3 linked regions of the Homo sapiens genome follow. The protein of the gene in region 2 interacts with the protein of the main gene of each other region in a pairwise test. Each region holds a gene or a part of one and is shown on either strand. Other genes may lie near its edges.

What was found. The genes of interacting proteins can lie anywhere in the genome.
Region 1: the proteins of MAL2 (region 2) and VARS2 interact in binary tests that used the Homo sapiens proteins (3 or more experiments, as listed by UniProt).
Region 3: the proteins of MAL2 (region 2) and RAB37 interact in binary tests that used the Homo sapiens proteins (3 or more experiments, as listed by UniProt).

Annotation. Positions count from the first base shown.
Region 1 is NC_000006.12:30,917,238-30,924,237, forward strand, and holds part of VARS2 (valine--tRNA ligase, mitochondrial isoform 2 precursor), read left to right. Parts: intron 1-457; coding exon 458-569; intron 570-1,589; coding exon 1,590-1,678; intron 1,679-2,520; coding exon 2,521-2,611; intron 2,612-2,851; coding exon 2,852-2,979; intron 2,980-3,095; coding exon 3,096-3,199; intron 3,200-3,430; coding exon 3,431-3,512; intron 3,513-3,827; coding exon 3,828-3,904; intron 3,905-3,992; coding exon 3,993-4,068; intron 4,069-4,351; coding exon 4,352-4,454; intron 4,455-4,687; coding exon 4,688-4,758; intron 4,759-4,878; coding exon 4,879-5,004; intron 5,005-5,212; coding exon 5,213-5,317; intron 5,318-5,468; coding exon 5,469-5,537; intron 5,538-5,660; coding exon 5,661-5,739; intron 5,740-5,866; coding exon 5,867-5,994; intron 5,995-6,115; coding exon 6,116-6,268; intron 6,269-7,000. UniProt on the Homo sapiens protein: Catalyzes the attachment of valine to tRNA(Val) in a two-step reaction: valine is first activated by ATP to form Val-AMP and then transferred to the acceptor end of tRNA(Val).
Region 2 is NC_000008.11:119,239,112-119,246,554, reverse strand, and holds the end of MAL2 (protein MAL2), read right to left. Parts: intron 6,391-7,443; coding exon 6,235-6,390; intron 3,139-6,234; coding exon 3,067-3,138; 3' UTR 882-3,066; downstream 1-881. UniProt on the Homo sapiens protein: Member of the machinery of polarized transport. Required for the indirect transcytotic route at the step of the egress of the transcytosing cargo from perinuclear endosomes in order for it to travel to the apical surface via a raft-dependent pathway.
Region 3 is NC_000017.11:74,732,663-74,740,255, forward strand, and holds the start of RAB37 (ras-related protein Rab-37), read left to right. Parts: upstream 1-4,593; 5' UTR 4,594-4,610; coding exon 4,611-4,703; intron 4,704-7,593. UniProt on the Homo sapiens protein: The small GTPases Rab are key regulators of intracellular membrane trafficking, from the formation of transport vesicles to their fusion with membranes.

The DNA of each region.
Region 1 (7,000 bases), on a different chromosome or scaffold from region 2:
AGGGAAGCAGGTTTGTGAGAGCTCTGAGGCAGAGTGGTCAATGATTAAGAGCTCAGACTCTGGAGCCAGGGTGCCTGGATTCAAATCTGATGCCTGCCTGTTACAGCTGTGTGGCTTTTGGCAGGCCGTTTAGTCTCTTTAAGCCTCAGCTTCCTCAGTCTGTAAATTAGAGATGATGGAATGCTTGCATCGTGGGGGTGTTGTAAAAATTAAATGAGAATTCACATAGGTGCTTGGCAAGATACCTGGCCATGGCTTAAGTGCTCAGTGAATATTTATTAGAAGTGTGACTGCACGAGCATTGGGTGAGGGCAGAGGGAGGTAGCTCCCGAATCCTCCAAATGGCTTTTAGATGGATTGCAGGGAGGCTGGGCAGATGGATGAGTGGCAGAGTGAAGCCTGGGCATGAGCCTTGCAGAAAGGCTGCCCTCTGACCCAGCTTTCTCGGTGCCTCCAGGTGGAGAACCGGCCCCTGCCTGGCCACACACAGCTTCGACTGCCTGGCTGCCCCACCCCCGTGTCTTTTGGCCTCCTATTTTCTGTTGCCTTCCCCGTGGATGGAGAGCCTGGTGAGCATAGTACTCTGCAGGGTCACCCGTTTACCTCCATTTTTCCTGTTTTCTGAAGCCCATGTTGGGCTGCTAGGAACCCATCAGTCCATCTCTCACATGTACCTTGGTAGTGTTCACCTCAGCGTGGGCACTTACCCAGGGTCTTCTGGGGGATGTACAAAAAGTGCATGTGGTCACTGCCCTTTGAGAGTGTGGTGTGATTCTTCAGGAGTGCGCTACCCAGGAAAGAGATCAGTTCTAAGGTATGTTTTGTTTTGTTTGTTTGTTTGTTTGTTTTGAGACAGAGTCTCACTCTGTCACCCAGGCTGCAGTGCAATGGCACGATCTCGGCTCCTGCAACCTCTGCTTCCCAGGTTCAAGCGATTCTCCTGTCTCAGCCTCCTGAGTAGCTGGGATTACAGGCGCGTGCCACCAGGCCTGGCTAATTTTTGTATTTTTAGTAGAGACGGGGTTTCACCATGTTGGTCAGGTTGGTCTCGAACTCCTGACCTCGTGATCTGCCCGCCTTGGCCTCCCAAAGTGCTGGGATTACGGGCGTGAGCCACTGCACCTGGCCTCTAAGGTGTGGTTTTTACGGTAAATGTTCTGAAGAGCTCAGAGAAAGGGAAGACAGATGAGCTGGAATTGTCAGTGGAAGCTTCTTGTAGGAGCTGGTGCTCCCCCTGAGGAATGTACAGCATTTGTGATTAGGACACTGAGAATCCCCAGTGTCCTCTGGGCACCCAGCAAGAATTCTATTATAGTTGCTTTAATTAATGCTGCCCCCATTTCTTCCATGCAAATTATCAGGGAATTCTTTAGCACCAGAGACCCTCTCAGACCTCTGGTCATCAGCTTATGGGAAACCCTGGGTTCCTATAAACACTGCTCCTACTTTTTTCTAGTCACTCCTGGGGGCCTCTTCCACCTTGACTACTCCCTGCCCCTTCCCCTTTCCAGTTCTACTGCCTTTAGCTATGTTGGCAGTGAGAGGTGAGGATGATGACCAGCTGTAAGTGTTTAAATGTTTATCTTCAGATGCAGAGGTTGTGGTAGGAACCACAAGGCCAGAGACGCTGCCTGGAGATGTGGCTGTGGCCGTTCATCCAGACGACTCGCGATACACAGTAATACCCAGTGCGCTCCTGCACTCTGGCCCGCCCCGCCAATGGCCTTCTCTTCTCTTGGGTTTTAAATGGTGGCTCTTTCTCTCTTGCTTCTACTTCCTTTTCCTGAGACTTCTCTCAGTGGTTCTGATTGGACTCCCTCCTCCTCTTATAGTTTTTCTGTAGCTCAGGGGTTGACAAACTGGCCCATGGTCCTAATCCAGCTTGCGGCCTTTTTTTTTGAGACAGAGTCTCGCTCTGTCACCAAGGCTGGAGGGCAGTGGTGTGATCTTGGCTCACTGCAACCTCCACCTCCTGGGTTCAAGCAATTCTCCTGCCTCAGCCTCCTGAGTAGCTGGGAGCGTGGCACCATGCCCGGCACGTGCCACCACACCCAGCTAATTTTTTGTATTTTTACAAAAATTAGTAATTAATTTTTTTTAAGTAATGTAATTTTTAAGTAATGTTATTTAGTAGAGACGGAGTGTCACTGTGTTAGCCAGGATAGTCTCGATCTCCTGACCTCGTGATCTGCCCACCTCGGCCTCCCAAAGTGCTGGGATTACAGGCGTGAGCCGCCGCGCCTGGCTGCTTGCAGCCTTTATATTATCTATGGCTGCTATTATATACCCTCTCCAGCTCTGCTGCAGTGGCATAATAGAGTAATTGTGCTGAGAATGAATTTGTCTCTAGGCCCAAAAGCCTAAAATATCTACATTCTGGCCCCTTAAGAGTTTGCTGACCTTGCTCTAGCTTGCTACCTTCCACTTTCTACCTTCTTATTCCTGGGGTTCTCACGCCCCAGCCCAGACCCTTCCAACCCTCACAGGTGCCTGTCCTTGATCCCTCTCCCTTCCCTTCAGCATCTACACGGGCGACAGCTTCGTCACCCCTTGATGGGGCAGCCTCTTCCCCTCATCACAGACTATGCTGTTCAGCCACATGTGGGCACGGGTGAGTGGAAGTCAGGGGAGGGAGAGAAAGTTGGGGGTCCTGGAGGAGAGGGGAGGGAACCAGGAGGAAGAGGAAGGTGGGAGTGGGAGATCCTCATATAGGGTGGTCTGAGTGGGGAATGGGAGGGAGGCACAGACAGAGAAAGTCGCAGGGGCTGGGGCGGTGCAGGTGATGATGATACATCTGGAAAAGCAAAAGCCAAGGTCAGGTTCAGTACTCACCATGGCTGTGCTCCCCAAGGGGCAGTGAAGGTGACTCCAGCTCACAGTCCTGCCGATGCTGAGATGGGGGCCCGACATGGCTTGAGCCCCTTGAATGTCATTGCGGAGGATGGGACCATGACCTCCCTCTGCGGGGACTGGCTGCAGGTGGTACCACCCTATGTTACCCCATCCTTTGGGGGCTCTCTGTCCCCCTAATCCTCCTCCTAGTTTCTTATTTCTCTAGAGGCCTTCAGTCTTTACTCTTGCCGCTTTTTCTCCAGGGTCTTCACCGGTTTGTGGCCCGGGAAAAGATAATGTCTGTGCTGAGTGAATGGGGCCTGTTCCGGGGCCTCCAGAACCACCCCATGGTACTGCCCATCTGCAGGTAACCTCATTTTAACTCCTTTACTAAGGGCTACCCCAAAAGGGAATGTATGGAGCTTAAGGGTGACAATAGGATGGGCTCTGCACCCCTCCGTTAGAATACGAGCTCCGTGTCGGTTTTATTCGCTATTGTATCCTCAGTACCAAGGGCCTGGCATGGCATGGGGTCTTGTGCCCCTGGGAGAAGTCACAGGGCCGGAAGAGCAGTGGACTCACCCTGTCTCTCTTTCAGCCGTTCTGGGGATGTGATAGAATACCTGCTGAAGAACCAGTGGTTTGTCCGCTGCCAGGAAATGGGGGCCCGAGCTGCCAAGGTGAGGCTGCAGTGTAGGAAGGACTGGGGCCAGGGGTTGGGGGAGCTCCCTGAGAATTGGAATGAAGAAATGGGAAGCAGGAGACCTCCTGCCCTGAAGACCTCTCCAGCTGTGGTAACTGAGAGGATGTGTGGGATGGAGGCTGGGCGGCCCAGCAAGGGCTGGCTCATATCCTTACTCAAGCCCAGAATCTTGGCAAGAGGCTTGGGAGGTCCTTTCTGAGTTTTAAAATGACCTCAGAGGCCACTCGTCCTATCTGTGGAGGTGCGGCCGTGCAGGAAGGGCAACATTGTCTAAAGTCCCCTTTCTCTCCAGGCTGTGGAGTCGGGGGCCCTGGAGCTCAGTCCCTCCTTCCACCAGAAGAACTGGCAGCACTGGTTTTCCCATATTGGGTAAGGGTAGGGTAAGGGGAGCTCTTGTGGAGATGGGGAGGGGGGACTGACTGGTTATTCTAAGACTTCACGAATGTCCTCCCGGCAGGGACTGGTGTGTCTCCCGGCAGCTGTGGTGGGGCCATCAGATTCCAGCCTACCTGGTTGTAGAGGACCATGCGCAGGTGGGTAGGAAGAAGCACCCGGAGGGCCGAGTGTGGCACAGAGCACCTAGCCCAGGAGTCAGAGCTCCGCAGGGCCAAGTCCCGCTCCTGCCTGGTCATGTGCTTCATGCTCATAGTCATGTAACCTTCTGCGCGATCAAGGCTCCCTGAAGTGGCATTTCTTTATCTCACCCCTGGGGGAACCTGGCCACTCTAAGACCACATGAGGACGTGAAAACCAAGTGACATTTACACCTGTCAGCTGTTCTTCCTCACTCTCCCCAACCCCTTCCTACTTTTGCAGGGAGAAGAGGACTGTTGGGTGGTTGGGCGGTCAGAGGCTGAGGCCAGAGAGGTAGCAGCGGAACTGACAGGGAGGCCAGGGGCAGAGCTGACCCTGGAGAGGGGTGAGTGCCTGAGCTGGGGAGGGATGTACAGGGGAGCGGGGGCCTGGGCATCTGGGCCTTTGAGGGGAACAGATCCCAAGATACAGAAGGTAGGGTCAGGAAAGTTGGGAATGGAGCCAAAGGGGACAGCCCTGGTCTCTGGGGGTGGGGGTTGGCCTAGAATGGTGGCAGCAGTGGTCTGAGGTCCTAGAAGCCAAGGTTCCAACTGTCCCCATTCTTTTTCTGTTTCCCAGATCCTGATGTCCTAGACACATGGTTTTCTTCTGCCCTGTTCCCCTTTTCTGCCCTGGGCTGGCCCCAAGAGGTGAGGTGGGTTGAGAGGGCGAAAGTGAAGGGGAAACGATAAGGAAGGGATGGCTGGGCCCCCACAGAGGCTTGAGGGGGGCCTGGGGCCTGGGCCTCTTACTGCTCCTCTTCCCCCTAGACCCCAGACCTTGCTCGTTTCTACCCCCTGTCACTTTTGGAAACGGGCAGCGACCTTCTGCTGTTCTGGGTGGGCCGCATGGTCATGTTGGGGACCCAGCTCACAGGGCAGCTGCCCTTCAGCAAGGTAAGAGCCCTTCAGTGCCCTGCCGCTTTCTGTGACTCCAGTGTTCCCCAAACCTTGTCCTCCCTTCTAACCCCTAATGTGGTCCTTTCCACGTTGCTGATTCCTTTTTCCTAATTCACTTCCTACCCTACCCCCAAAAGTATGGAGGCCAGAGATCCCAAGGCACCTCCAAGGAAACCCCCCTCTGTTGACCCCTCCCTGCCCCCAGGTGCTTCTTCATCCCATGGTTCGGGACAGGCAGGGCCGGAAGATGAGCAAGTCCCTGGGGAATGTGCTGGACCCAAGAGACATCATCAGTGGGGTGGAGATGCAGGTGAGGACGAAGCACCCACTAGAGGGACAAGGTTTGCAGGGTTTGCAGGAGAGAGGAAGGCAGGCTGAGGGAGGAGTGAGGCCAGCAGGTGTGACCCTTATAGAGGCAGGGCCTTCGACCTGGGTCGTGAATTGCCCCCTTCCATCCCCAGGTGCTGCAGGAAAAGCTGAGAAGCGGAAATTTGGACCCTGCAGAGCTGGCCATTGTGGCTGCAGCACAGGTGAGTCATCGCTGCCTGCCCCCCACCAGCTCTAGCTCACCACCTCTGGCTTCCTCTGCAACCCAGGTCCTGGCCCTGCAGCCACAAAGGCATCTGCCACCCTTCTTCTTCCTCTGGTTGCAGAAAAAGGACTTTCCTCACGGGATCCCTGAGTGTGGGACAGATGCCCTGAGATTCACACTCTGCTCCCATGGAGTTCAGGGTAAGCCTGGGCGAGGGGTGTCGGGGTGAGCAGAGGGCAGCGGGCACCTGTGCAGGGGCAGGGCAGGGGCAGGACTTCTGGTGCTGCTGCCACCTACATGCAGACTACCTCGATTCTTCCCTTCCAGCGGGCGACTTGCACCTGTCAGTCTCTGAGGTCCAGAGCTGCCGACATTTCTGCAACAAGATCTGGAATGCTCTTCGCTTTATCCTCAATGCTTTAGGGGAGAAATTTGTGCCACAGCCTGCTGAGGAGGTAAGAGAAAACAGAGGTGCTTGGGAGTAGGGTAGTCAGGTGTCAGAGGGCCAAGGTGGCATCTGGAAGGAAAGGAGGCAGGGGAGGGGGAGTCAGGCCATCCTGCCCCCTCTGCCTGCAGCTGTCTCCCTCCTCCCCGATGGATGCCTGGATCCTGAGCCGCCTTGCCCTGGCTGCCCAGGAGTGTGAGCGGGGCTTCCTCACCCGAGAGCTCTCGCTCGTCACTCATGCCCTGCACCACTTCTGGCTTCACAACCTCTGTGACGTCTACCTGGTGAGTGAGGCTGGGGGAGGCTTGGTATTCCCATGCCTGCTTCTAATTCCTCTGGAAATTTCCAAGGCAGAGAGCTCTGGAGTTAATAAGTTCCCAATTGTCCCCTCAGTTAGGAGAGGAGAGGAGACGAGGGAGTCTCAGTTCCCCTCTTCCTGGGACTGGTTTTGGCAGTGCAGCCCAGGCACTGTTGCCTGCCTGTCACCTGGGGAGAGGAGGAGGAGGGAGACTTCTAGAAATGTCTGACAAGTCGGTGTCAGAAGGCAGAGGGGAATTTTTTCAGTCCCTGTAGTTGCTGAGTTTGGCCCATGGGCAGGCTGCGTGCTGAGAGAGGCCTGGGAGGGACTAGCAGCGGTCTTTAGACCAGGGGTTCTCACGCTGTCCTACGTCCAAAGCACCTGGAGGGCTTGTTGACGGTGGATCCCCCCCGCTCCACTGCCACCCCAGAGTGGCTCCTTTAGCAGGTTGGGGTGGGGGTGGGTGGTGTAATGAATATTCATTTCTTGTCCCAAGTGGTGCTGCTGCTGCTGGCTGTGGACCACTGCCCTAGCTCAGCCTTTTAAAAACCTCTGTCCCCTGTTGATAAGCAAAAAACTCAATGATTTTTTTCCCTAAACTACATGTTTCCCTGGAAATCCTGTCCCTGTGTACTGCAGAGAATTGCTGTCCTGGAGTCCCCTTCTTTGTGCTGAGTGTGTCCTGGGACTGTGGATCATATCAGAAGTGCTAAGTGCT
Region 2 (7,443 bases):
AAAATGTTCTAAGATATGACACTTACAATAACTATGATGTTAAACATTCTGCTAAAACTTCTCTGGGTGAAGAAAAGATCACATTTTTGGATATAGATATAAAATCTGGGTGAACTGAGGCAAACAGAAATTAAGAGTCTGCACTTCGGAGTCAGACTGTTGGGGTTTAAGTCCCAGCTTTCTCACCTGCTAGGCAGGCAGCACTGGGTGTTTCTTAAGGTTTTTTAGTCTCCAAGCCTTTAAAATGGGATAAGAGTATACACCTCATAGGGTTGTTATGATGAGAAATAAATGAATATGTGAAAAAAATGCCTGAAACATATAAAACATGGTATAAATGAATGCTTTTTAAATAAAACAATTCTTTTTAGCATGGATAGTGGTTTTTTTTGTGTGTGTGTGAGACAGGGTCTCACTCTGTCACCCAGGTTGGAGCCTCAACATCCTGGGCTAAAGCAATCCTCCCACCTCAGTTTCCCAAGTAGCTGGGACTAGAGGCACGTGCCACATGCACCCAGCTAATTTTTAAATTATTTTGTAGAGATGAGGTCTTGCTATATTGCCCAGGTTGGTCCTGAATTCCTAGTGTCAAGTGATCCTTCTGCCTCGGCTTCCCAAAGTATTGGGAATACTGGCATAAGTCATCACACTCGGCAAAACAGAATTCTCATTTAAACTTCCTTTGCAACGTTACTTCCAAAGACTTGCCTCTTTCACCTTCATCAAAGAAAAAAGACTTACTGACAATTCCTGAGAGACTTTTACACAGAAATGTTTAAAACAGAACTTTTTATACATTATAATTCTATAAGCTCTGCCAAATTTATATCAAACCTTTAACTGAATTTCAAAGTGAATGGTGTAAAAGATGACCACAAAGATTATCAAATGAATACTTTATTAGAGACATAACACGTATAAAATAAATTTCTTTTCATCATGGAGTTACCAGATTTTAAAACCAACCAACACTTTCTCATTTTTACAGCTAAGACATGTTAAATTCTTAAATGCCATAATTTTTGTTCAACTGCTTTGTCATTCAACTCACAAGTCTAGAATGTGATTAAGCTACAAATCTAAGTATTCACAGATGTGTCTTAGGCTTGGTTTGTAACAATCTAGAAGCAATCTGTTTACAAAAGTGCCACCAAAGCATTTTAAAGAAACCAATTTAATGCCACCAAACATAAGCCTGCTATACCTGGGAAACAAAAAATCTCACACCTAAATTCTAGCAGAGTAAACGATTCCAACTAGAATGTACTGTATATCCATATGGCACATTTATGACTTTGTAATATGTAATTCATAATACAGGTTTAGGTGTGTGGTATGGAGCTAGGAAAACCAAAGTAGTAGGATATTATAGAAAAGATCTGATGTTAAGTATAAAGTCATATGCCTGATTTCCTCAAACCTTTTGTTTTTCCTCATGTCTTCTGTCTTTATATTTTTATCACAAACCAAGATCTAACAGGGTTCTTTCTAGAGGATTATTAGATAAGTAACACTTGATCATTAAGCACGGATCATGCCACTCATTCATGGTTGTTCTATGTTCCATGAACTCTAATAGCCCAACTTATACATGGCACTCCAAGGGGATGCTTCAGCCAGAAAGTAAAGGGCTGAAAAAGTAGAACAATACAAAAGCCCTCGTGTGGTGGGAACTGTGGCCTCACTCTTACTTGTCCTTCCATTCAAAACAGTTTGGCACCTTTCCATGACGAGGATCTCTACAGGTAGGTTAAAATACTTTTCTGTGCTATTCAGCCAGAAATAGTTTTTGTGCTGGATATGATTTTAAAACAGATTTTGTCTGTCACCAGTGCAAAAACATTACAGATGTCTGGGCTAATACAAAAACACATAAGAATCTACAACTTTATATTTAATACTCTATTCAAATTTAACTCAAAGTAATGCAAAATAATTAGAAGTAAAAACTTAATTCTTCTGAGAGCTCTATTTGGAAAAGCTTCACATATCCACACACAAATATGGGTATATTCATGCACAGGGCAAACAACTGTATTCTGAAGCATAAATAAACTCAAAGTAAGACATCAGTAGCTAGATACCAGTTCCAGTATTGGTTAATGGTCTCTGGGGATCCCATTTTAAGCACTCTCAGATGAGGATCTTGCTCAGTTGTTAGACTATCATTAGTTTGATTAAGCAACTGAAGTTTACTTCATAAATTACTTTTTCCTATATCCAGGACTCTGCCTGAGAAATTTTATACATTCCTCCAAAGGTAAGTATTCTCCAAAGGTAAGTATTTGACTATTAACACAAAGGCAATGTGATTATTGCATAATGACACTAAATATTATGTGGCTTTTCTGTTAGGTTTATAAGTTTTCAATGATCAGTTCAAGAAAATGCAGATCATATATAACTAAGGTTTTACACCAGTGGTTGACAAACTATGGCCCACAGGCTAAACCCAGCCTCCCCTTGTTTTTATAAATAAGTTTTATTAGAACATAACCACACTCATTCATTTCTGTATTGTGTATAGCTGCTTTCACGCTATACTAGCAGAACTGAATAGTTGTGACAGAGACTGTATGGACCGTGAAGCATAAATATTTACCATCTGGCCCATTCTAAAAAAAGTGTGCCAATTCCTGGTTTACACTAAAATATAGAGTTTAGTGGGAAGCCTATTTGAAATGTGTTTTTTTTAGGGGCTGTAATTACCAATTAAAATTAAGGTTCAGGTGACTCAGCAACCAAACAAAAGGGATACTAATTTTTTATGAACAATATATTTGTATTTTATGGACATAAAAGGAAACTTTCAGAAAGAAAAGGAGGAAAATAAAGGGGGAAAGGGAAAAAGGGGAGAGATGTAAAATAAAAGGCCATTTCTTTAATATCATAATAAAATTAACATTCCATCCATGAAATAAACCAGAACTTGAGCTTAGAGTCTCTCTCTACTAAACACATTACTTTTGGAATGTTTTTGCATCTGGACAAAATGGTATCCAAATTGATCAGACATATAAAGTAGACAAGTGAAACTAACATACGACTGCCAGTTTCTAAGGAGTGTTACGGTCGCCATCTTCGTAAAGCCAGACCCAAACTGCAACCATAACAAGCTGTCGTCATAAAGGCAAAAATCTAAGAAAAAAGAAACAAAAATTCACATCAGATTTACAACACCGACTTATAAACAGTGTCCTAAAGAACAACCATATGAAGTTTGACCAACAATCTACCTAAAGATACTTCGACACTTACAAAAATATTTTACATTGTTTTTTTTTTTTTGATGATTTGTACAACTGTTTTATTCCCTCATACAATTACCCTCCCCCCTTCCTTTAAACATTTTAGCTCCTAATAATTTTCTCATTTGTGGACAACTTTACACTGAACATTTGTTCAATCTGTTCACATTCTGGGCTCACTTAAGTATTTGTGAATCCCTAAGCACTGTATTTAAAAATTCAGCATGAAGTTCTGTTCATGTAGTGGCTTCACAGCCAAGGAAGCCAGCAACTATCAGAACCTGAGGATGCATCAAATAATTTCTATGATGATGGAAGGTAACTTTAAAACTCAACTAAGACAAGTGGAAATGAATTATCAGGTTGGCTTGCTCTTGTATGGGAGACAGTCCTGTGTACAAATCTGCACTCTACTTGGAATTAATGAGAATTTCTTCAGCACCAACTGTGTGTATATCACTATACTTGGTACATATAAACAAACAGTAGATAATGTCCTCACCCTTTTGGGGCTTATGATCCATAGAAGACTAAAAGACAAAGCAAAAGCAGTTCAACATGATAAATGTTTGATAAATGTTGTGGGTTTAGCACAGGGATTCTTAACCAGGAAACCAGTTCTGGGAAGGAATACCAGATTCACCTATAGACCATTTTCACAGTTTACTATTCTGCTTTTCTTTCCACCCTTCTTCTGCTGATTTTTTCTCTGATACATTTCTAATCTAGACATTGTTTTCTGAATGACAGCAATAGCTTTTGATACCTATTTTTTGATACCTATTATTTGATACCTATTATTAGGGAAAAGGAATTTTCCTCTCTAATTTCCCAAATGGATGGCTAATACATTTTAGTTACAATAAAACTCAAACTAGAGATTTACTTAGACTGGAGTGAGCATATGGATGAAATGGGATGTAATGTTGAACTTGAAGCATGTAGAGGTTTACTGAGACAGCTTCACTTAGAAAGGGAAGGACAACAGGGACAAAGTCACAAAAGAGAAGCAGCCAGAACAGAACTACATTATGGAGAACACGGAAAACTAGGCCCTTAGGACAAAGGTGACAAATTAAAGACCTCAGACAACCATCACGTATTTCAGCAGCTACTATTCTTGTGAAAGTAGGTTCTAGGGTGACTGTCAATAGATTTGGGGCTACTTCAATGATCCAAGATACAAGAATCTAGCCTGCACCGTTAAAATGAAGGGACTGGAAGTAAGAAACACATAAAGGCAAATACAATGGGAATTGATGACTAATAGCATAGGAAAGTCCCTGAACTTTGCTTTGTAAAGCTGTTAAAACCAAGGGTTTTCTAATGTGGATCACAAGGATTCTATCATCCTCAGGGATGATATGGGTGGGTAGAGGCAGCTTTATGAAAAGAGAATGAGCATCATTCAAGGCCCTCTTCCTCCACTTCAACTAGAGCACTTACACTTTTATCTTCTAGATTTATTGGGGTTTTAGGTAAGAATTGATTAAATAAAACCTTTATTTCTTTTATAAGCAAGTGTTAAAGTCATGAATCTACACTATAAACCTTTCAAAGCTAAAACCATGACTCCTTTTTGTTGTAATCCCACCTTCAGCCTAATTCATTGCAGGCACTCAATAAATTTTGACAAATCCTACCAGAGACTTGGGAAACTTACAATAGGTCTTGAAATCATTTGTCTTGTACCCCTCAAAACTCACTCTAGACATGTATTATCTAACATGATAGCCACTAGGCACATGTGATTATTAAAATTAAATAACACTAAAAATTCAAGTTCCTTAGTCATACTAGTTATCTTTCTCTCCCCCGACCAGAGTCTTGGTCTGTCGCTCAGACTGCTCTGCTCACTGCAACCTCCGCCTCCTGAGTAGGTAGCACTACAGGCACAAGCCACCAGGCCTGGCCAATTCTTTATTCTGTTTTTTTTCCTTTTTCAGAGACAAGGTTTTGCTATGTTGACCAGGCTGGTCTCAAACTCTTGGCCTCAAGCAGTCCTCCCACCTCGGCCTACCAATGTGCTGGGATTACAGGCATGAGCTATGATTCCTTGGCCTAGTTAATTTTCAACTGCTCAATAGCCACATGAAGCCAGTGGCCACCATTTTGGACAGCACTTACATGAAATATTCCTGTCATTATAGAAAGTTCTACTAGACAGTGCTGCTCCAGACAGATTTCAATGACTATATGAGTACTGGGTTATTTATAGGCTACCTGGGGAACATAATAAAACATTAGGGTCACTAACTTGCCATATACTTATATTAAATATCACAATATTTCAGAAACTAATTTGGACTTCTGACATCTTAACAATGATCTCTAACAACAAAAATAATATATTATTTCCTCAAATTATCTACACAAAATGACAAATTCACTCCAGTATACGAATTAAAGATGATTTAAAAAATTTAATAAATACCCCAAGGAATATATTTCATCTGCCTATCATCTACTGCAATGGCTGGCATATTTGCCTCCCTTTCTCACCTGCACTTTCCTTAATGGCAGGAACTGCAACTTATTCACCCCATCCTCAACACCCAGCAAAATTACTTGATAAATGGTAGGCCCACAGTAACTATTCATTCAATAGAAATAAATTGCAAGCAGCTATTGAATACTAAAGAACAAAACTGGAAATCTCCTTTACCATCTCTGAAAGTTATCAGAAGCAAAAAACACAACTCTTTTTGCAAAGTAGACACTGCTGTGCAAAGCCAAGCAGTCCTACTGGCTTGCTATGATCTTACATGAACATCAACCTCTTCGTGCTACAGTTTAATCATCCACAACACTGGGGGTGATCATGGCACTTTGCTTACAAGGTTATTGTACAGATAAATAGCTATTACATATTTAATGCCAATGGCTAGCATTGAAGAAAACTATTGTTGCCTGAGGAGTTTCTTGGAGGCCTTGACAGTGGAGCGGAAGTGCTGGTGAATGGTACTCATTGAATATGAATACTTACTGAGGCTGCTACGTTTATGTTATACTGGTTATCACTCAGGAGTGGCTGCCCGGTTATGGTTGTATTGCAATGCAAATCATGCAGGGATGTGGCTGCTGCTTCCAATAAAAAGGCTCCAAAATAGAAGACAAATACTGTAAAATGGTAGGCAAAATCCTAAAAGAGGAGAGAAAAGACATCTGCAATTAAAAAAAAATATTTTTCTGTTCCTTATTTTAAATAATGAAGTTTAGGTTTAGCAAGATCAAAACATTTAATTAAACAATCTTAACTATATTCACTGTTAAGCTTAGCTGCTTTAGAAATGTTAGACTATCAGAACCCAAGCGAAAATCAACTGACCCATCTTAATTGGCACATTGGTAAACCTTTCCATATACTGAATTTTATAATATGTAATTTTATTTTTTTATTATTATACTTTAAGTTTTAGGGTACATGTGCACAATGTGCAGGTTAGTTACATATGTATACATGTGCCATGCTAGTGTGCTGCACTCATTAACTCATCATTTAGCATTAGGTATATCTCCTAATGCTATCCCTCCCCACAACAGTCCCCAGAGTGTGATGTTCCCCTTCCTGTGTCCATGTGTTCTCATTGTTCAATTCCCACCTATGAGTGAGAATATGTGGTGTTTGGTTTTTTGTTCTTGCGATAGTTTACTGAGAATGATGATTTCCAATTTCATCCATGTCCCTACAAAGGCCATGAACTCATCATTTTTTATGGCTGCATAGTATTCCATGGTGTATATGTGCCACATTTTCTTAATCCAGTCTATCATTGTTGGACATTTGGGTTGGTTCCAAGTCTTTGCTACTGTGAATAATGCCGCAATAAACATACATGTGCATGTGTCTTTATAGCAGCATGATCTGTAGTCCTTTGGGACCCAGTAATGGGATGGCTGGGTCAAATGGTATTTCTAGTTCTAGATCCCTGAGGAATCGCCACACTGACTTCCACAATGGTTGAACTAGTTTACAGTCCCACCAACAGTGTAAAGGTGTTCCTATTTCTCCACATCCTCTCCAGCACCTGTTGTTTCCTGACTTTTTAATGATTGCCATTCTAACTGGTATGAGATGATATCTCATTGTGGTTTTGATTTGCATTTCTCTGATGGTCAGTGATGGTGAGCATTTTTTCATGTGTTTTTTGGCTGCATAAATGTCTTCTTTTGAGAAGTGTCTGTTCATATCCTT
Region 3 (7,593 bases), on a different chromosome or scaffold from region 2:
GTGTGTGTATGTGGCGTGAGATGTGTATGGTGTGATTTGAGGGGTGTGTGGTGTGACGTGTGTGGTGTGATTTGAGGTGTGTGTGATGAGGTGTGTGGTGTGATTTGAGGGGTGAGGTGTGTGTGGTGTGAGGTGTGTGTGGCGTGATTTGAGGTGTGTGTGTGTGGTTTCAGGTGTACACAAGAGCCCCCCCATCTTTCAACACGCATGAGGGTCTGTCTCACTGACACTTGGTACCTCCACTATCAGCAGGGCTGCATGACAATGACAGTGTGATCTGTGATCAGGAGGGTAGGGGTGTCTATTTGGGGGTATTGTGGGGGTGTGCGTCTCAGATCTGGAGGCAATAAGAGGTGTTGGGGGTCATTTATAGGGTGATATACACATTTGGTGATGGTGTGAGGCATGGGGTCCATTGGAGAGGCAGGTGTTTGCACAGTGATGTGGCACAGGTGTTGATGGTGTGAAATAAACTGTGCCTGGAGCTGCACTGTGGTGACAGGAGTGTGTGTTTGGAGTGAAATGAGGTATGTGTGTTTGAGGGTCATGTAAGATGTGTATGTATGTGGTATGATGGTAGGTGTGTTTGTTTATAGTATGAGGTGCACATTTGTGGCATAATACAAAGTTGTGTGTGGGACATGTTATGAAGTGTGTGTTTGTGGTATAATGTAGGGTGTGAGGCATGTGTATTTATGGTATGATGTGAGGCAGATGTGTGTGGTATGATGTAGGGTGTGTGTGTATATTTGTGGTGTGATTTGAGAGTGTATGTGTGTGATGTGAGGTGTGTGTGATTTGAGGGATGTGTGTGGTGTGAGGTGTGTGGTGTGATTTGAGGTGTGTGTGGTGAGGTGTGTGGTGTGATTTGAGGGGTGAGGTGTGTATGGTCTGAGGTGTGTGTGTGTGGTGAGGTGTGTGTGTCTGTGGTGTGTTGTGGGTGGGTGCACACGTGTGAGTGTCTGTGGTGTGTGTCTGGGGAGAGACACAGGCTACCACAGCGCATACACAGCCTCAGAGTGAACGTTAGGAGGCCCAGGTTTCCTCCCCAGAGACCACACGGATCCCTTAGTGAGTCCCTATTCTGCACAGCCCCTGTTCCCTGTTCTGAATGTCTTAGACCCTAACCCACTTCTGACTCACCCGAGGCTGCCCTTGAACACCCTACAGGACATTACAGTGGCCCTGGGGACAGTGTACGCACCCTCCAAGTATGACATTACCCACATACCACAGACCCAGCAGGCCTGCAGCCCCTCTCCCCATGTTCAAAGACTTCTTCCCTAGGTCAGATTCCTCCATCCAGACTAGTGCAGCAACGCAGCAGGGAAGTGCTTCAGGCCACTGCTCCTTCTGGATGATTCGTGCTAATGTTCAACCTTCTGTATTCCAAACCCACCATAGGACAAAGAGGGCCTTGGAGCCAACAACGTGAACCACAGCTGGAGGCTAGAAATCTGAACTCAAAGTACCAGCAGGGCCACGCTCCCTCTGAAGGCTCCAGAGAAGGGTCATTCCTTCCTCTTCCATGGCCTTGGTGGCTCCCAGGAGTCCTTGGCATTCCTTGGCTTGCAGCCACACTCCTCCCATCTTGCCTCTGTCTTCACCTGGATGTCTTTTCCCTGTGTCTCTTTCTTCTTATGACACCGGTCATACTGGATTAATGGCCTGCCCTATATTAGTATAACCTCATCTTAATGAGTGATATCTGCAATGACCACATTTCCAAGTAAGGGCATGATCTGAGGTACTGGTGGTTCAGACCTCAACCTGTCTTTGGGGGACAGAATTCAACCCATAACAGCATGGTTTACAGTAGAAGGTGAGCATGAGGCATGCCCTGTCCCCTCTCTCATTCTTCCTCCACCATTTCCCTCCTGCAATGAAAACCCGCATCCTGGCTGGGCACAGTGGTTCACACCTGTAATCCCAATACTTTGGGAGGCTAAGGCAGGCGGATCACCTAAGGTCAGGAGTTCAAGACCAGCCTGGCCAACATGGTGAAACCCTGTCTCTACAAAAATACAAAAATTAGCCAGGCATGATGATGGGCACCTGTTATCCCAGCTACTTGGGAGGCTGAGGCAGGAGGAGAATGGCTTGAACAGCCCGGGAGGCGGAGGTTGCAGTGAGCCAAGATCGTGCCACTTACTCCAGCCTGGATGACAGAGCTCCACCTCAAGAAAGAAACAAAAAGAAAGAAAGAAAGAGAGACAGAGAGAAAGAAAGGGAAAGAGAGAGAGGAAGGAAGGAAGGAAGGAGAGAAAGAAAGAGAAAGAAAGAAAGAGAGAAAGAAGAAAGAAAGAAAAAGAAAGAAAGAAAAAGAAAGGAAGAAAGAAAAAGAAAGGAAGGAAGGAAGAAAGAAAGAAAGAAAGAAAGAAAGAAAGAAAGAAAGAAAGAGAAAGAAAGGGAAAAGAAGGAAGGAAAAGAGAGGGGAAGGAAGGAAGGCAGGCAGGCAAAGAAAGAAAGAAGAGAGAGAGAGAGAAAGGAAAGAAGGAAAGAAGGAAGGAAGGGAGGGAGGGAGGAAGGAAGGAAGGGAGGGAGGAAGGGAGGAGAGGGGAGGGGAGGGAAGGGGAGAGAAAAGACCGCATACCAGGCCAGGTGCGGTGGCTCACGCTTGTAATCCCAGCAATTTGGAAGGCCAAGGCAGGCGTATCGCCTGAGGTCAGCAGTTCCAAACCAGCCTGTCCAACATGGTGAAGTTCTCTACTAAGAATACAAAAATTAGCCAGGCGTGGTGGCGTGCACCTGTAGTCCCAGCTGCTCCAGAGGCTGAGGCAGGAGAATTGCTTGAACCTGGGAGGCAGAGGCTGCAATGCGCCAAGATCCCGCCACTGCACTCCAGCCTGGGCGACAGAGTGAGACTCCGTCTCCGGGAGCCCACGGCATTGAGCAAACCTCGGCATTATTTGCAGCAAGAGCCTCTGGCATCCAAATAGCAACCAACACCACGCCTCTGTAGTGTGCTGCGCAGCCTCCACACTCCAGTCTGAGGCTCCCTGTTTGAGTCCCGCCCTATGCCCAGCTGAGGTTATAGCACGCTCACCTCCAGAAGAGGTAACCCAAGCTCTTTACTCTACTGGAGATCACCTCTGTCCCCACTCTGGGCGCTTCTCCCAGCTGACAGAAAATACCTCCAGCTGATGTCAGAAAATACAGGGCTGGAGGCTGGCGTACAAAGTCAGTCCCCACAGGCCTATGGTGGCCCATAAGCCACGTCTACCCCTGCTCCTCACCTCCACACCTAAGTTAAGAATTGCAGGCCGGGCGCAGTGGCTCACGCCTGTAATCCCAGCACTTTGGGAGGCTGAGGTGGGCGGACCGCCTGAGGTCAGGAATTTGAGACCAGCTTGGCCAACATGGCAAAACCCCGTCTCTACTAAAAATACAAAAAGAAAAAATAGCCGGGCCTGATGTCGCGCACCTGTAATCCCAGCTACTCCGGGAGACTGAGGCGGGAGTATAGCTTGAACCCGGGAAGCAAAGGTTGCAGTGAGGCGAGATCGCACCACTGCACTCCAGGCTGGGCGACAGAGTGAGACTCTGTCTGAAAAAAAAAAAAAGTGCAGGTACCCCTCTCCAGCTCTCCCCTCCCTACACATCCCTCAAACCGTCCCGCTGTAATGCACCCGCCCTGTTCCTTGGTAACTTGAAGCTGCTTATAGAATGTGGAGATGGGGGTAATTGAAAGGTCGGCCCAGGCCACAGAGCCCCTGAGCTCTGCTACCGGCAACCCCAGCTGCACTCCCCACTCTCTGTCACCAGGAGCTGCCGGGTGCCTGGGATATCCTGGCAGCTCTGCTCAAAATGATCTACGACTTCATGAATTTATTTGGCTCCTCCTCGGGGCCAGGGTGAGTGTCATGGGTTAATAAGGCCGGCCCCGCCTTCAGGAGCGGTCCACTGGGAGATGTGTGCTGCGCAGCCCTCTTGCGAAAGCTCTCCCCTGGTGGGACATTCTGGGCACAACCAACAGGCCGGGGGAAATGAGAGGTGATCCATACTAAAGGGTCAAAGTCCCCGCACCAGGCAGAGGCCCCAAAACACCGCAGCGTACATGTGCTGCAAGGCGAGTACGGGTTGGTAAACAAAACTATATTCAGATGAGCTCGGGCCGGGTGACTTAACAGATGAGGAAGTGTCTCGGGGCCATCGGCGGAGGCGCAGCCCAGGGGTCCCCAGCTCCCCGCCTCGCCACCTGGGGACAGCCCACGGCCCGGGGCTCGGGCGCCGCCTGCTGTCGCGGTGCGCAGCGACTACGGGAACTCTTCCGCAGCAGACGGGGTCCCCGCGGCCCGCTCCCCCAGGGGCAAGCAAGCGACCACAGGGGACCGGTCCCGGGGCTGGATGTGGCTCATGTCCGAAGCGCACGGAGCCGAGCCGGTGTTGCTCAGGGAGGCTGCCCGCCCCTTCACGCAGACCCTGCGGCTCTGCGTGCCCTCAGGGAACAGCAAGGTCCGAGCCGGTGTCGTCGAGGGGGCGACGGGACGGAGGGAGGAGCCTGAGGGGTCCCGGTCGAGGGAGGGGAGGAGTGGGCGGGGCGGGGGTGGGGCCGTTCCTGCGCTCTCCTTCGCCTGCGGGCCGGCACTGCTCACCTCTCGTCCAGGGACATGACGGGCACGCCAGGCGCCGTTGCCACCCGGGATGGCGAGGCCCCCGAGCGCTCCCCGCCCTGCAGTCCGAGCTACGACCTCACGGGCAAGGTGGGTGGGCCTCTTCCGTGAGACCCCCGCCCTCCTCGGCGCTAGCCCCTTCCTGGCTGCGTCTGGGTTGGACTCAGCCCTTCCCCCAGGCAGCTGCGTCTCCCAGAGGAGGGAGGGAGAGAGGGTCAGGACACAGCCTCTGGGGCCGTCCCAAGCTCTAGGTGTCTCTGCTGGCTTGGTGGGGGCGGGTCGCGGAAGATCGCAAAAACTGAGTGATCCCCCCGCCGGCCCCAACTCAGTTCTCTTCTGCCACACTCTGGCAAATATGAGCCCCCGGGAGCCCATGCTTCTTGGTGAGGGTTAAGCGCGCAACTCTCGGGGCTCAGGCTGGGAAGGGCTGGGAGATGGGGACCGAACGGAGACTCGGAGAGGACGTCCCCTGCTGGCAGAGGAACTGGCGTTAATGCCATTTTCCGAGCTAAGCTCTTAGTTGAGATCTGACATCCAGGTTTAAGGCCTGATGTCCCCCAGCTGCTCCCCTCCCATTCCACCCGCTGGAGGCACTGCCTCCCACCTTCCTCCCTGCAGTCGGAAGCCGCTCCTCCCAGAAGGATGTTGCCAGCCGGCCTGCAGGTCACTTGGGAATTTTTCGAACCTGAGAAAGATTTCAGTGGTTGGTCTTTCGCATCCCGCACTTGAGAGAGCTCCAGGGCTGCTCTCTGGGGCTTGCTCCCTCTACAGGGGTGTCCTGTATGGAAACAGGTAGGGACAGCAGTGGACTGGTCTGTCGCCTTCCATCTGTGTCCTTGGAGTGAGCGGGTACCAGAAACTGAAAGAACTGCTGAGGGAGCCTAGAGCTTCCACTCTTCCTCTGCAGGGTTGGGGATGGAGTGAGGGCTGTCCTGGATTCCGCTGCATGGCCTTGAAGGAGACCTGCCTCTCTCTGGGCCTCGGTTTCCTCCCCGACACCAGGGCTCACCCTTGCTGGGAGCCTCAGCCTCCACCCCAGTGTTTCGGGGGAAGCCACCCTGCAAGTCATCCGCCCAGAGCCGTTGAGATAGGCGTCCTGTGTGGGCTTGTGGCAGGAAATGGGCCCCTGCACCCTCGGAGAGGAGGAGCTGCTGTTGGCCAGGCCCCAGGCTGAGGGGGACTGCCTGACCTTGTTGCCCTGCAAACCAGCTGGGTTGTTTGCCTAGGAGGTGGCCAGGCTAGGCAGCTGTTTGTGTTTGGTGGAATCACCGAGCTGGGTGGGTAGCTGGCATCGTTTGCTCAAGGCAGCTGTGATCTGTAAAGTACACAAAGACTGGCCCTCCCTCCCTCCTTCCTGCTCCAGGGCTGGGACCCAGGAGCCAGGGAGGAGTGCAGGCTCCAGAAAGCTCCTATCCCCCACCCCTTCATCTGTTCCCTGGCCAAGCGGCATTGGCCGGAGAGTTGGTCCCCAGCCTCCCCGGGCCTGCCCCAGGGGAGTGAGTCCAGGACCCTCTGAGAAAGCCTGGCAGGAGCTCCTTGGACCAGACTAGGGGTGATGTGGCCCACAGGCAGACAGTTCCCACCCTGGGCCACTCTTCCCTGGGTCTTAGGTGATTCACCACGATGATGGGCCCTAGCCATTAACAGACTCTAGAAATACCTCAAAGACATTATCCCTCCTCCTTCTACCCACTATGGAAACCATGCCACAGAAAGGTTAAGGAATCTTCCTAAAGTCACACAGTAGGCCATTTACAAATCAAGACCCATCCTTCATACCCCTTCTGCTCAGCCACCCCTGCCTCTCCACCAGAGTTAACTAATGCCAGTACCCCATGCCCACAACAGGAATGCCTTTGGGCTCCACTGTCAATTTCAGAGCCTCAAAAATAATTCAAACCTAGTCCCTGCTTAACCCATTAAGCCACCTAACCAGCAGCTGGGAAATTCCAGCATTGGATCTAGACCCCTGTTATCCAAGATTGGAGAACAGTGGGACAAAGTGCTCCTCTCCACCATTCCTGCGTGTCCCTGGGGAAGATGAGCAGAGCAGAGCCAGACAGTAAAGGAGAGGGCCACGCCCCCTCCACAGGTTACCTCCTTGGTACTCCTGCCCGCACTACCCACAGCAACCCCGGGATGCCGATCTGCAGCCACATGTCCCATGTGGGAGGTTTCTGCTGAAAGAACTTCCAACTACACATCTCCCCACTTCAGTATAAATTTCAACCTTCCCTAATTCATGCAACCTTTTTTTTTTTTTTTTTTTTTTGAGACAGAGTGTCGCTCTGTCACCGAGGCTGGAGTTCAGTGATGCAATCTCGGCTCACTGCAACCTCTACCTCCTGGGTTCAAGCTATTCTCCTGTCTCCGCCTCCCAAGTAACTGGGACTACAGGCGTGTGCCACCACTCCTGGCTAGTTTTTTGTATTTTTAGTAGAGATGGGGTTTCACCTTGTTGGTCAGGCTGGTCTCAAACTCCCAACCTCAGGTGATCCGTCCACCTTGGGCACCCAAAATGCTAGGATTACACACATGAGCTACTGCACCCGGCCTCATGCAACCTTTTAATAAACATAAAATGTCATTAGAAACTTCCAGTCAGGCGCGGTGGCTCACGCCCGTAATCCCAGCACTTTGGGAGGCTGAGGCGGGCGGATCACCTGAGGTCGGGAGTTCAAGACCAGCCTGGCCAACATGGAGAAACCCCGTCTCTACTAAAAATAAAAAATTAGCCAGGCGAGGTGGTGCATGCCTATAATCCCAGCTACTCAGGAGGCTGAGGCAGGAGAATCATTTAAACCTGGGAGGTGGAGGTTGTGGTGAGCCAAGATCTCGCCATTGCACTCCAGCCTGGGCAACAAGAGCAAAACTCCATCTCAAAAAAAAAAAGAAAGAAAGAAAGAAAGAAACTTCCAAATAAATGTTGTGACACAAAAAAAAAAACCCAAACAATATTCATTATAGAGTATGCAAATGA